2 linked regions of the Homo sapiens genome follow. The protein of the gene in region 1 interacts with the protein of each later gene in a pairwise test. Each region holds a gene or a part of one and is shown in the gene's direction. Other genes may lie near its edges.

Evidence for each region. Proteins that work in one complex are often made in the same cells at the same time.
Region 2: the proteins of FAM217A (region 1) and TEX11 interact in binary tests that used the Homo sapiens proteins (3 or more experiments, as listed by UniProt).

Annotation. Positions count from the first base shown.
Region 1 is NC_000006.12:4,068,038-4,076,889, reverse strand, and holds the end of FAM217A (protein FAM217A), read left to right. Parts: intron 1-410; exon of another isoform or gene 411-501; intron 502-2,228; coding exon 2,229-2,313; intron 2,314-2,433; coding exon 2,434-2,447; intron 2,448-3,382; coding exon 3,383-3,457; intron 3,458-3,547; coding exon 3,548-3,615; intron 3,616-6,969; coding exon 6,970-8,194; 3' UTR 8,195-8,523; downstream 8,524-8,852.
Region 2 is NC_000023.11:70,604,712-70,611,711, reverse strand, and holds part of TEX11 (testis-expressed protein 11), read left to right. Parts: intron 1-1,168; coding exon 1,169-1,209; intron 1,210-2,534; coding exon 2,535-2,621; intron 2,622-4,682; coding exon 4,683-4,753; intron 4,754-6,194; coding exon 6,195-6,311; intron 6,312-7,000. UniProt on the Homo sapiens protein: Regulator of crossing-over during meiosis. Involved in initiation and/or maintenance of chromosome synapsis and formation of crossovers.

The DNA of each region.
Region 1 (8,852 bases):
TTTGTTTGTTTGTTTTGGAGACGAGACTTAGTCTTCCTCTGTCTCCCAGGCTGGAGTGCTGTGGCACGATCTCAACTCACTATAACCCCCACCTCCCGGGTTCAAGCGATTCTCCTGCCTCAGCCTCCCGAGTAGCTGGGACTACAGGCATGTGCCACCACGCCCGGCTAATTTTTGTATTTTTAGTAGCGACATGTTGGCCAGGCTGGTCTTGAACTCCTGACCTCAAGTGATCCACCCGCCTTGGCTTTCCAAAGTGCTGGGATTACAGGTGTGAGCTACCATGCCTGGCCTGGTTTCATTAATTTTATTTTAGAATTGCAACAACACAGTTTCATCAGCTGAGGATATTTCTCTCACGTGCATTTCATACAAAAGTATCAGGATTATATAGCTGAAAAAAGCTTAAAAATCCACCAGACATCGTAAAAAAGTCTGAAGGGGTGCATCTCACACATGAACATAAAAACCCAGTCATCGTGCTGTGAACTACAAAAGGATCTTTAAAATACAAATAACTGGGCCTCACCCTCATTCTTTTTTTTTTTTTTCTTTTTTTTTGAGACGGAGTCTCACTCTGTCACCCAGGGTGGAGTGCAGTGGTGCTATCGTGGCTCACTGCAACTTCTGCGTCTCGGATTCAAGTGATTCTCCTGCCTCAGCCTCCCAAGTAGCTGGGATTACAGGCACCCACCACCACGCCCAGCTAATTTTTGTATTTTTAGTAGAAATGGGGTTTCGACATGTTGGCCAGGCTGGTCTAGAGCTCCTGACTTGAGGTGATCTGCCCGCCTCGGCCTCCCAAAATGCTGGGATTACTGCCACTTGAGCCACTGCGCCCGGCCCTCACCCTCATTCTTTAAAATCAGGATTTGCAGCATTTTTTTGCAACTATTATTTTTAAAAAGCTCCCCAGGTGATTCTCATGTAGAGATTAGCCCTTGTACATATCATGCCAGAGAGCAGAGAATTAATTTTATTAATTATATTTTTCATAAATCTATAGAGAATGATAATCTGCAGTCTCCCTTCCAATGTTCAACTACCCTTCCTATCAGGAGATATCTCTTTGTGGATAAATTAATCCTCATGCTGTATTGAAGCTTATTTCTCTCTGTTCCTCCTTAGTGAAGAGATTGTATCTAATAATACCTCACATTTCATTTGCTTAGAGTTTAATTTACAATGCTTTTTTGAGACAGAAAACAATTGGGTTCATTCCTAAAAAGTTACTTTCTTATAAACGAATCACCTCTTCACTTTCTGTTTTCCAGAATAAATTGTTATAATCTTCTACACACCTCCCACATTTTCCCCCATAGCACTCTGCACAATGTCTGGAACATAAATACTCAGTTGTTATTAGCACCTTTCCCGTTTTATTTTTGGCTTTCTTTTGAATATTTCCTAAGTGTTCCTCCACATCTGGAAGCCAGAATGAGTAGTGGGCTGGTTAGTGTTGAATATAATATGAGGGTTAGAGACTTCCTGTGGTTGATGGAAAGATTTTTACAGGCTTTTATTTTTTTAATTTTATTTATTTATGTATGTATTTTGAGACAGAGTCTCACTCTGTGGCCCAGGCTGGAGTGCAGTGGTGTGATTGCAGCTCACTGCAACCTCCACCTCCTGGGTTCAAGCGATTCTCCTGCCTCAGCCTCCCGAACAGCTGGGATTACAGGTGCGTGCCGCCACACCTGGCTGATTTTTGTGTTTTTATTGGAGACAGGGTTTCACCATGTTGGCCAGGCTGGTCTCAAACTCCAGACCTCAGGTGATCCTGACCTGCCCCGGCCTCCCAAAGTGCTGGGAGTACAGGCATGAGCCACCACACCTGGCTTTTTATAGACTTTTAGATCTGATACTCAGATATAGAAAGTTTGATGAATGCACCATTGTGTTCCAGAGGCACACTGAACAGGACATTTTATTACATTTTAAAAATCAATTTTGAAAACCTGTGTTATTATATTTAACAAAATGTGAACGAAACCACAAATTATTGTAAAAGCCTGATTCCTCAACAATAGGCATTATCAAACTGATAAGGGCTTGGTTAAGAGAAAATTGCTTTCTCCTCAAAGATGCTGATAAGTTCTTTATAATGAGGGGTGAGAGTCATGAAGCTTTGTGCCTTTCGTCATACTTTACCCCAAGAACATGTGAAATTATTGAGCTTTTTATGTTTTCTTAATGTTAAGTTTATCCTAAAACAAATATTGTTTTAGAACTTATCTCACTGGAATTTGGATTCAGAAGTACCTGTTTCTGAAAATAAAAACCTCCCAGCTGGAAGGGATGGAGCAGCAGGTGGTAAGAAATCCTAGATGTGTATACTTATACTGAAAGAATCACTCATATTAAAAGGGGGTTTGTTTTGAATATAATCAGTTTTATGTAACTATTAATTGTCATTTTTTATACACATTTCAGGCAAAATTAACAAGGTAAGGATGAATGTTTGGTTTTAAGGTATTCATAAAACATACGATTTTAAAATAAGTATGTTCTTTAAAAAAATTTTCTTCCTGAAAGTTAAACTTTAAATTTCATTTCTGTAGAGTTCTTCACACAAGTCAAAGTCAAATATTTTAGAGTTTCAAGTTGGTTATTAAATGAATATTTTGTTATATTAAGTATTTTTCAGTATAACAATAATATAAATGAAAATTGAGTATAGTATTTTTTAGTCATTGCCGAAAGGGAAGTAGTCCTGTCCTTTAAAATGTCTTGAAGCAGGCCGGGTGCAGTGGCTCATGCCTGTAATCCCAGCACTTTAGGAGGCTGAGGCAAGTGGATCACTTGAGGTCAGGAGTTTGAGACCAGCCTGTGCAATATGGTGAAACCCCATCTCTACAAAAATACAAAAAAATTAGCCAGGCATGGTGGCACATAGCTGTAGTCCCAGCTACTCGAGAGGCTGAGCTCAGCAGGAGAATCGCTTGAGCCCGGGAAACAGAGGTTTCAGTGAGCCGAGTTCGTGCCCCCGTACTCCAGCCTGGGCAACAGAACGAGACCCTGTCTCAACAACAACAAAATGTCTTGAAGCAGTTGAAATGACCAATATCTTGTTCTGAAGTAGTGGAAAATTAATCTTTTTGTTTATCCTTTTTGATCAAAACATAAAACATTTCACTGCAAAATAAAGACAATCTTAATGATATTCAAGTCTTATTAGTTAACAGTTTAGTTGGTATTTATAATAAATAGGTTTTACTAATTTCTGCTGAAATCAGTAAAAACAAATGATTTCTTTGTATATAAACAAAGTGTCATTCAGTTTTACCATACATTCCTTGATTAGAACAAGAACTATACATTGTTAGAACAAGAATAGGGAACAGAGATATATTATGTTTAAAAGTCTTCTGCTGCCTTATAGAACTATTTGGAAATTCCAGTGGAGCAACTGATGCTAGAACCTAATTTGTCGGTGCATAGTCAAAAAAGTACACAGGTGGGATTTTATTCTTCATACCCTTAAAATATTATATTTTAAAAATATATGCAGCTACTAAACTATTACCCATTATTTTTCTGTCATCAGAATAGTAAACAAGGGATCTTTCAATTATGGAATTGTCCTCTTAATGAAGGAAGTACCATAGAGAAGAGGTAAGCGAGTAGTTATTTTGTAACACCCTAAATTACTGAAATAAATTTAGATACACATGAGATAACTATTTGAAATACAAGGACCATGAACAACCAGAAGAAAATAGTATTCTGTGGGAATAGTGGGCAATTGTAGAAGTCCACCCTAAAGCAGGAAGTGGCTGCAGATACCACGAGACAATTAGAATAGGTAGGAGTCAAGAGCTGACCATGTTCTGACAATGAAGGTTTTAGATGGATAAAGTATGGACTTCCTGTTGAAAGCAAAAGGAACTGTAATAGGAAAGTAGTATTGCATTCCAGGGACTATGTTAATTCCTTATATGTAGTAATTCATTTAAATCACAACCGACCATGTAAGGAAGGTAGTTATCATCCCTGTTTTGCAGATGAGGACACTGAGGCATGGTGACAAGTTAAGTAACTTGCTCAAAGTCACACAATATTAATGAAAGGGAGAGCCAGGATATGAAAGTAGCCTCTCAGACCTTACCTGAGGTTTTTTTTTTTTTGAGACGGAGTTTTGCTCTTGTTGCCCAGGCTGGAGTGCAAAGATGCAATCTCAGCTCATCACAACCTCTGCCTCCTGGGTTGAAGCAATTCTCCTGCCTCAGCCTCTGGAGTAACTGGGTTTACAGGCATGGGCCACCACGCCCAGCTAATTTTGTATTTTTAGTAGAGACGGGGTTTCTCCATGTTGGTCACGCTGGTCTCAAACTCCCGACCTCAGGTGATCCACCCACCTCGGCCTCCCAAAGTTCTGGGATTACAGGTGTGAGCCACCATGCCAGGCCGCTTTTTTTTTTTTAAATACTTTTTTAAGTTCTGGGAATACATGTGCAGAACTTGCAGGTTTGTTACATAGGTATACACGTGCCATGGTGGTTTGCTGCACCCAACCTTACCTGAGTTTTAATTCTTTTTTTGTGTGTGTGTGACAAAGTTTCACTCTTGTTGCCCATGCTGGAGTGCAATGGCACGATCTCAGCTCACTGCAACCTCTGCCTCCCAGGTTCAAGCAATTCTCTGCCTCAGCTGCCTGAGTAGCTAGGATTACAGGTGCCCGCCACCATGCCTGGCTAATTTTTGTATTTTTAGTAGAGATGGGGTTTTACCATCTTGGCCAGGCTGGTCTTGAACTCCTGACCTTGTGATTCACCCACCTCGTCCTCCCAAAGTGCTGGGATTACGGGCGTGAGCCACCGTGCCCGGCCCCTGAATGTTAATTCTTATTTTTTTGATTCTTAAACTTTATCGTGCATTAAGACTAGCTAGAAGGCTTCTTGGAAACACAGGTTACTAGTATTTGGAAATGAATGCTTTTTGAGGGCTGCTTTGTGGAGCTTTTACATAGTGTCTTAGCTCATGGATCCTGAGTTCCATGGCTCTTTTGTGTAGTTTATTTAGCAGGAGAGTGGTTCACTTGTTATCAGCCATCTCCTAGTCAGAGAATTTTACTTCTGTGAGGCCTGGGATACAGTTCACTTTATGTTAAAATTCAAGGGGGAAATCAAGTTCTATGGCAGTTGTGGTGACTGATGACCTAAAGGAATATTGGTGCTGATGGGGATAAGAAAGGCTATTTTTATGAGAAAAAACCTCAGCTGGGAAAAAGTATTTCAAGGTAAGTGGTCAAATGAAGTGAACTGAATTTTATGACAGTAGCAGAGGAGCAAACAAATGGAGGCGGTAGAATGCAGCGGTTAGGACCTGGGGCATAGGAGTCCACCACGTGCAGTTCCAGCTCTCCCACTTCCTAGATGTGTGCCCTCAGCCACTCTACACCCCCGTTCCCTTATCTGCAAAAGGTGGAAAATAAAAGTGCCTATCTCATGAGGCTGTGAGGACTAAACAGAACAATGTGTTTGGCAGGCATTTGCTATTAATATTGGGTAGGTTTAATAATGTTGCAGAGATGGAAGTTTGGTATCAATGAAAGATTTTTCTCCTCAATATACCATCAACAAATAAAAAGAATAAAAGTAACGATAACTTAGTGTTTAACATTTTGCAAAGCATATTCATATAAATTCTCTTGCTTCTCAGACTACCTCCAAGGTAGGTATTATCATTTCCATTTTGCTCACTCACTGGTAGCAAAGGGGTTCAAACCTAGGCCCTCCCTTTCCAGATTTCACACTCTTCATACTACATGTACGTGTCTATTAACAGTTGTAGATTTAAAGTGATTTTCCTGTGGTTTTTCAAAGGCAAAGCAGTATGCCTAGTATTTAGCTAAATTAGTATTTTTTTCTTTTTCTTTTTCTCTTTTTTTTTTTGCAACAGGGCCTCATTCTGTCACCCAGGCTGGGGTGTAGTGGTGCAGTCATGGCTTACTGCAGCCTCAACCTCTGAGGCTGAAGCAGTCTTCCCAACTCAGCCTCCAGAGGAGCAGGGACTACAGGTGCATGCCTCCATGCCCAGCTAATTTTTTGTAGACAAGAATTTTGCCATGTTGCTCAGGCTGGTCTCAGAATCCCAGGCACAAGCAACCCGCCTGCCTTGGCCTCCCAAAGTGTTGGGATTACAGGTGTGAGCCACTGTGCCTGGCCTCGAAAGTATTTTTCAAAACTTTTCCAGATTACTTTGTTATCTTTAATGTCAACTGGCTTAAAAAGAAACAAGAGGATATCAAGACTATATGTCAACTAATGCATCAAATCTTTTAATCTCAGTATTTCTAGTTATCTTTAAAAAACAAAAACTAACTAGAAACTCAGTATTCTATGGCTTTTTTGTAGTTTTCATTTTAACATAATACCTAGAATTACTCCTAAAATAGAAGAGCATCATTATATGAAAATTACTAGGGACTATATCTGGGATAATTTTTAATAGGTATTGTTTGCTTCCTTTTTTGTTACAGTAATTTTTAAAAACCACAGTGGCTAACATAGAAGGCTTTTTAAAGTAACCTAATTACATTTTTTGAGTTTCCTTTTATCTAATTCTGGATCAATAAACATTTCACTTTAATTTCAGTTTGAGTTAGATATCCTCATTTTCAAACATAATAATTGCATGTACACTATAGACAAACATATAGTTAGCCACTTTTAACCTTTGTCTATTCACAGCTACAGTTAGCCGTTTTAGGTGTCATAATCTAGTCACCTGTGCTTGCACAAAGGGATGCCCAGTTAATATTTTAATCTATATTTTTAAAATTTATGTAGTTGTATATTAGAGCATTTTTGGAAACTAACATATTTCTGTTGCAGGTAGCTAGATACACATATGCCATTGGGAACTAAACATTAACCAATCTTTGATAAAGGGTACTTAACTGTATCATTTTAATAGCATTTTAATTCTAGTCAATAAACCATTCATTAATTAAATTATTTTTTAAAGGGAATTCAAAAAATCTTCAGTGGAAACTGGCTTTAATGTAATCAATCATCCTATAAGGGTCTTCACTCTGAACCACCCATTAACAATTGCTTCAGTTGATAAGCAAGTTGGTCCTTACCCTGGACTGCCAATGCCATTAGGTCTCTGCTGGCCCTATGCTGATGGAGACTTTTTTAAGAACAGAAATGAGATTCATGTTAGTTCATGTTCAACTATAGAAAACAATGATGGTGAAACATTACCTGCTCCAAATTGGAATTTGAAACATGGAAACAGCAGTGTGGAAGAAAATTTCACAGATGAAAGTGATTTATCAGAAAATGAGAAGACAAATGATACTTTACTCAGCTATTTTAAAAAGGTGGACCTGAACTTGAAGCCAGAAACAATAAAAAATGTTGAGGAACCTTTCACCGAGGAGCCAAATGAAGTATTTCCATATCCTGATTTTCTCCCTCCTCCTTTCAGTGCTCTAGACTTGCACAATTTAGCCCTCTCCAAATCTGACAATTGGAAAGTGACAGTGGACCCTGCAGAAACCTCTGTTGAACACTTGATAACTCGTTTACTGGAACTAGAACGATTACAACATATGACTATTCAAAAAGAGAGGCCAAGACTACAAACGACTTTCTGTACTCCAGCAGTTACTGAACGACCCTCTTCCTCCAAAGCTACACCAAAAGTGAGACAGCCAAAACTTTGCGACTCTTTGAGTCTTCAGATACCTTGTGTAGATAAAAGTCAAGAAAAAAGTAAAAACAACTCTGGTTCTTGTAAGCTTGAACAAAATGCTTTAAAACGGAATTGGAGCAATGCTGGCAAATATAGATGGAATTCTAGACCACTGTCTCTAAAAAGTTCTTCCACCCCAAAACAATTGATTGAAACTTATGATAAGAATCCCAAAAGTTCTATTTTAAGTCCATGCCAAGAACTCTCATTCAAACCTACTATTGGCCATACAAATCAATCAATGGTTAAAATGGTCTCCACAAGATGTCTGCCATGGAGGTCTCCAATGCCAGTTTCACCTATACCTCTGACTTTTCCCGAAAATCAGAAGGAAGAAATTAAGGCACCGAAGAGAAACTTTGGGACCAAAAAGAAACTTTACCGACAAAATATAGTGTTGAATAGACCATTCTCTATTCAGAAGCTAAACTGTTTGTCGCCTTCCCTTATTGCTAAGGATAAGTGCTGCTCACCCATTGAACAAAAATAACTCTTTTCTTTCATACATCTCAATGTGAACACATCTACTCTAAGAAGCCCAACTAAGATATGGTTAATTATTCCAAGACACAGGTACTATTAACAGTCCCCCAAAATCACCAAACAGTTGCTTGATGTGATATGGAGTAGAACTTGTGAAAAGCACTGCTGAGATGTCTATATATAAACCCACAGGCTTCTATACTGACATATTTCACAATCTTTTGCATGTTGTGTTTCAAGTAAATGGTTCACTTGGTAGACTATTCTATTCAAAAGGCTACTCTTTTTTCAGTGATTGTTTTCCAGTATAATTCCATCAATAAATGGTATAATTGACTTATTGCAGCTGTAGTTCTTGTCATATAGTCATAAGAGTTGATTTTTTAAAAAGTCTTTCTCACTCTGGTATCATTTTTTTTTTCCTGTGCCCTCATCTCCACAGATCTATCATTTTGACCTATCCTTTGGGCATTTACTTGGCCCTTAAAAGCTAAAGAAGTTGTTGTTCTGTTAATGTACAAGATCCTCTAGATCCTCCTAGCTCCTCCCAAATCCTTAGAAATTTTCTGTCCCTGGCCTTTCTTTGTCATTTACATGAAAGATAGTTCTCTTTGGGGCCCAACTACAGGTTTAGGCTTGAAATAACCCTCTTCCACTCAGATCCA
Region 2 (7,000 bases), on another chromosome or scaffold:
TTCTCCGAGATCAGTTAGGCTCTGATATACCCCAGAAGGTCAGGCTGTGGTTAAGCAGTTTCTCTTGAGGGCAAGACTTGTTAAGAACAGGGTGCTCTGGCATGTTTTAAAGTGTTTTGTTTCCTCTGCCCCCTGCAAGATGCATAAAGAGATTTTGCTCCAATATTCACTGAGTAGCTAACCAAGCTCCTGGAGGCAAAACTCACAAAACTGTGGAGGCCTCCTTATGACTGGGTCCTCCTGAGTCTTTTAATTCAGACTTGTCCACACTGAGCCTCCAGTGGTTTGTCAGTTACGCTTCAGGTTTTCCTACTCCAGCATTGGTTCCCATGGTAGTTTCCACTTTTGAATCTCTGCTCTAGTAAGCTATGACTCCCTATCTTCGCCCTTCTCTCCAATTTTTGTGGCAGTGGTTTTCCCTTTTTCCTCTCGTCTCTTATAGGTCCAAGAAGAGTTACTAATTTTTCAGTGTGTTCAGCGTTTTACTTGTTAGGAGAAACTGGCAACTTCCAAGCTCCTTACATGCATAACTAGAAACCGGAAGTTCTCTTTTAAATTTTATATGCTTAAAGAAGCTTGACAGAGGGGTCAGGAAACCTGGGTCTACTCTTTTCTTCATCTGTAAAATGATGTGTCTGTACAAGATAAGTTATTTTTTAAGCTGCATTCCTTAGAACCGTGGAAATTTTGTGGCACTGCATCAGGGACTTCCAGGAAGGTGAAACTCCAAGCCTCCACCCACTCCTCGTTCAACCACAGCAGCTCAACTTTTATCTTTTATCTTTTCTTGTATATTAGACTTTTATACAACTTTATTTGAAATAAGGGTTCTAGTTCCCCCCTTCAAAAAAGCTTATAAATCACAGAGATCACCAGCTGCTCTCAAGTGTTATGACCCTACAATATAAAACCTTGTCATTGAAATCCTTTGCTGAGAGTTTATGAAGAAGTAGAAGAGAGAAAAAATATGAGGGCACTGGGAATGAGTAACTGTATCCTACAGTGGGGAAGAAGATTGTTGAAATGGTAGATTGGAGTCCTGAGCAAAAAACTTCACAATTTTGCATTTTCTTAGTTCAATTCTCAGGCACAAATAGTGTCCCTTTTTAGTTATGTTTTATAGTAAAGATTTGGAGCAGTTGGAAAATATCCTTTTCTTTATTTTTAGGAAGAAAGAAATGGATCGACTTTTGACTTGCCTGAATAGAGGTAAATATCTCCCTGGTTATATTCAGTCCTTCATCTTGCCTCTATTCTCTGTTGAATTCTCCAAGTACACTAAGCACAGCAACTTTAACCTTATGTTTGAGTTAAGCTTCATGCTCCTTATTAATCTTTGCCACAGGAATCTATTTTGGTTTCTTCATTCACAAGCAGAGAAAAGTGTGTCATCATTAGCATTCATCTCCAAATGTGATTTCAGTTCTGTTTTAATTCCTATTTGTTTTAAGGACATTTCCTTCCCTCCCTCCCTCCCGTCCCTCCCTCCCTCCCTCCCTCTCTTCCTTCCTTCCTTCCTTCTTTCTCTCCTTCCCCCTTCCCTCCCTCCTTTCCTTTCCTTCTCTCCCTTCCTCCCTTCTCTCCCTCCCTGTCCCTCTACCTTTCTTTTCTAGTAGCCACTTGATCCTAACCTAAGAATTGAACAGGTGAAAAAAGATCAAGACAAATAAAAATACTCTGAACCCTGCTGTTTTTTTCATACCCTCTGAATCAAATTCAGGTTGCATATTCTCTTATTTTGAAGCTGTCCACCCAAGTCTGTGCCATCTCCCTTATCTACTAATAATTTTTCCCTGTCCACTTTATTCAAGCTAATCTCCTAGTTGTATCACATTTTTTTTCTAACTACATGCTTTTTTACATGGCATCCCTTTTAACAGATCTCCCATTTTTACTGTCCATGTACCTCTTTCCTTATGTCCAAAACACACCAAAAAGTTCATATCTTAGAAATTCTATCCTGCTCAGTGCAGTAGTTCAATTTTATACCTCAAATACCTGTCAGCAGGGTGTTAAACATAGCAAAGTGGTTTAGAAACCAGACCACTTCTTTTCAAAAGAGAAAAACTTTGCTGGTTGGCATTCTTATTTCTCAGAAAGAGAATGCCTTCTGATAGTGATAGCACATTCTGGTTCTGTCCTGAGCTTGCTGGCTCAGTAAATATTATGCCAGCATATTGATACCCTTCTAATTTTCAATCTCCAGTTCAGTCTTTTAAACGATTGTTTCTATTTTTTATTTCCTCACATGTAAATCATATCTTTCTACCTCAGGTGGTGAATGATTGCACTAATTAAAATTATAAATCTCTCCAAAGACATGTTTGTTCCCCAGAGTTTGAGTTAACAACTTCTTGGAACTTGGTAATGCTTTCTGTCATTTTAATTACTTTTGGTATGCACCCCTACACACATACACAAAAAAGAACTTTCTAAATTCAAACTCCTGTGAGACTGTTCTTAAAGCAGGATTAAACAATTTTGCTAGAGTATAAAATAAGACCATCAGTATCAAATTTTCCTGTTTGATGCAGCCTTTGTGAAACTTTCTCAGCCTTTTGGTGAAGAAGCCTTAAGTTTGGAGTCAAGAGCTAATGAAGCTCAGTGGTTTCGAAAAACAGGTAAGAGGAAATTCTGTGGCTCTGGGAAACATTGTGGGGTGGTGGAATTAGACAGATGTGATTTCAAATTCTGGATCTTTCATTTGTAGCTGTGGGTACAGAGATAACTTGCTTAATCTGTTTTATTACTTATAAAATGGAAATAGTTATATATACTTCATGCAGTTATTAAGGGTTTTAAATGAAACAGCATATATACTTTTTTCATAGTAGATACTCAATGGACATTAGTTGTGTCCCTTTTCTATAGAAATGGGTCTAAGATGAAACTAATGAACTGTAACTACAGGTCCTCAAGGTTGTGCTCCTAAACTTGGTTTAGAATACTTAATTTTTTTTTTTTTTTTTTTGAGATGGAGTCTCGCTCTGTCGCCCAGGCTGGAGTGCAGTGGCTTGATCTCAGCTCACTGCCAGCTCCGCCTCCCGGGTTCACACCATTCTCCTGCCTCAGCCTCCCTAGTAGCTGGGACTACAGGCACCCGCCACCACGCCCGGCTAATTTTTTGTATTTTTAGTAGAGATGGGGTTTCACCGTGTTAGCCAGGATGGTCTCGATCTCCTGACCTCGTGATCCACCTGCCTCGGCCTCCCAAAGTGCTAGGATTACAGGCGTAAGCCACCGTGCCTGGCCTAGAATACTTAATTTATTTCTGAGTGTGATTGACCAAAAATGAACTATATACAACAATATGGATGAATCTCACAAACATAATGTTGAGCAAAAGAAGCTAGATATTGAAGAATACATATTGTGTTGTTCATTTTATTTATAATTTTTTAAATGGGCAAAACTAATATATGGTGTTATAAGTCAGGATAATGGTTACCCTGGAAAAGGAGTTGGACTTGAAAGTTGTAGGAGCTTCAGGGTTTCTGGTAATGTTCAAGATCTTTCTTAATGTGGGTGCCAGACGCATGGATATGTCCACTTTGTGAAAATTCATCAAGCTGTACAATTATGAGTTGTGTAATATACTTTATAATGGCTCTATTTCAATAAAAATGATTTTAAAACTTGCGGAGGCAGTTACTACAGTGATAAGTAAGCATGAGCAATTAAGCAGCAGTGCCACAAAGTGGACTGATTCTACATGAACCTCTCCCTGTGTTATGAGGTTTAATAGGGCTTTAATCCTGGGAGAAAGGGAATGAATACTGCAATCTGACTTCTAAGAAACTGATGCAAATAATGAAAAATAACAAACATTTAAAATATAGACAAGTTTGGTGACTTTAATCTTTTGAAGGTTTGAAAAGGAATGTTTTTACTTTACTGCATTTTAATTTGGATTTTCCAAGGGGAAGATGATGCTGACTGATGCCTGATGAGGGCTTCTACTGCTCTTTGGAAGATATGAATCTCTCCAGTAATTTTTCTCAACTCTTGATTACAGTGTACCTTGTTCTTAGGTGAATTTTAACTTACTTTCACCACTGCGAGTTAGTGAGCTCTATCCATGTTGATCTTCATTTTTAGATAGATTAGTGTCAATTAAGAATTTTTTTTTTTTTTGAGACGGAGTTTTGCTGCCAGACTGGAGTGCAGTGGTGGCATCATAGCTCACTGTAACCTCAAATTCCTGGTGTCAGTCTTCTGGGACTATAGTTGTGTGCCACCACACCTGGCTAGTTTTGTTTTGTTTTGGTTTGTTTTTTAATTTTTTTGTATAGACGGAGTCTCTCTCTGTTGCCCAGGCTGGTCCTGAACTCCTGGCCTCCAGCAATCCTCCTGCCTTGGTCTCCCAAAGTTCTGGGATTATAGGAATGAGCCACCAAGCCTGGCCTCAGCTAAGAATTCTTATTGCATGTCCCCAATTTTAAAAAATTCAGCAGTACCTCCCTTGGTCATTGGTCTAGTGTTGAAGATTGGAATTGACGAGGGTCTCTAAATTTACCTGGAAAATTTTTCTTTAAAACCTAAAGTTAATTGTTTAAACCTTGAGAAACCCCTTACTAGTATGTTAATATCAAAGGTGTAAGTATCAGAAATTGTAATGGTACAGACTAAATGGTAGATTTTCATAATTTCATATTATTATGTTATTTCATGTTAATTTCCAGCTTGGAACTTGGCTGTGCAATGTGACAAAGATCCAGTGATGATGAGAGAGTTTTTTATACTTTCTTATAAGGTAAGTTTCTTTTAATAAGTATCTCATGTATGGACCACAACAAGGCTATAACCACTATGGCTATAGTAAAGGGCTAAATATAGACTAGGATTGTCTCTTGATCTAGGAACTTTTAATATATATGTAAGCAGGAATGACCTAAGAAGAATTTGTTCCTTTTAGGGTATAACATAAGAATGTGGGGCATATCTTTCTATACCAAAATATCAGAAACATTCATCAGGGAGCCTAAAGTTCTACCATTTAAGACTTATTTCTTTGCCTTTGAAGGGATCTCAGCCTCCCAAAGTCCTATATTAAAATGTAAATATCTTTAGGAGGGGAATACTCTAAGTAGTTGTTAATTACCAACACATTATGAAGAGTTATGGGAATAAGTCTACAAGAACATAGAATAAGTATCTGGGGATAGCAGGGGCTGAAAAAAGAGATAAGAAGCTTAGGCCTCCTTTATAACTTTCCTATAGCAGGTCCTGAGTGTAGCGATTTGTGAGTTTGTTATTTAATTATAAGCATTTTTAAATAGTCGTTGGCCTCCAAGGTAGAGGTTAAATGCCAGAAAGAGGACCAAGTATTGACAGGAAGATAAAAGGAGAAGGACTAAAGAATATCCTTCATACACATTCAGGAATACACAGTATGATATGTTGAGATCAATTAAATGTTAAGAGTTTTAGAGCTAGAAAGAACTATAAAGACTATCTAGCACAACTCCTTCATCTCACATAAGAGTAATCAGAGACCTAAAGAGATTGGTTGTCTTAAAATGCTATTAATTTAATAACAATGATGATTATGATCACTGAATGTTTGGGGAGATTAAGAAATAGTCTTTGCAAGTTTAGGCATAACTGCCATTTTAATTAAGTGAAATAAATTGGTTTTAGTTTTGGCATTTGTGATGGGACTTGTAGGATTGGCGTGTAAGAATCCAAATGGCCTAGAGTTTTATTGTAGTAGCTGGGAGTTTTTCCTAAAACTATACAATGTTAATGATGAGGTCATGACTAATGCCTGTCAAGATTTGACAATGCCTCTTTCAACCATGACAATATATGAACTAATTTTGGCTCTATTCAATACAAAGGTGGAAATCTTATTTGCCAGGGGAAAAATCACTTACAAATTACAACATAAACCAAGAAGTAAATCACTAGATAGAAATACAAGGGCGAATGATACTACTTGTCACTGGAAAAGATAGGAATACTGTGAAGAAATGAAGCTTTTTATCTCTAGGAAGGTACTAAAAACAATGGAAAGTAATATAAAATTAAAAGCATAAATCAGTATTATAGTTTATATCATTTCTATGGTGACATGTGCTTTTCCAGCTGAATTTTCTCATTCAAACAGGAAGTTGCTGATTTTCATTCTGATTGTTTGTGTTCACCTGGCAGAATTCTCACTATTCATTGATGTTCTGGTTACTTCTTATCAGATGTCCCAGTTTTGTCCTTCTGATCAAGTAATTCTGATTGCACGGAAAACATGTTTACTTATGGCAGTTGCAGTTGATCTAGAGCAAGGGAGAAAAGCTTCAACAGCTTTTGAACAGGTAATGTGCAACCTTCAAAGAAAAGACAAGAGTTCAGTGTGCTATTTGATATGTTTGCCTTCCCTGATGCAGTTCTTTTTGATTCTCTTTAGAGAATCCTTTTCTCCACTCCAGCATCGTCTTGATTTCAAAAGTTTGTAATGGCTAATTCCTTCCTAAGCAAAGGTTACTTTTGGTGTGGCCTCTTCTTTTAAGAAGATTAGATATCTCTTCTTTTAAAATTCCCCTTCCTATGGACCACTCTTTCCAAAAATGTTTTTAAATATCTTTTATCTTCATTGTCTGCCTGTGATTATATACGCGTTTGGACTCCACTTTTGTTTCTTACCACATCTTCTAAGGAAGAACTCATCTGTTTCCATAGCTTTGATAGCCATCTGAAATTATTACTTATCTGGTTTTTCTTCTCTCAATTGCATTTGCTTTCTTTTTCCCACATCCTTAAATATCTCATTAACTTAATTTCTACAAGACAGAATTCCTTACCTTTGCCTGAATTCCCCTATCAGATTCTTAAATGTTACCCCTTTTAGGAGCTATCAATATCACCGTCTCCCATACACCAGATTATTGGTTTGCTTTTAGCTGTTTACCTTTCTTCTTTCAATCTAAGAAAATTGTCTCCAAATCAGACCAATAGCATTTTTGTATGATTTTTAAGATCTAGATCTCTCTGCTTGGTTTCTCGT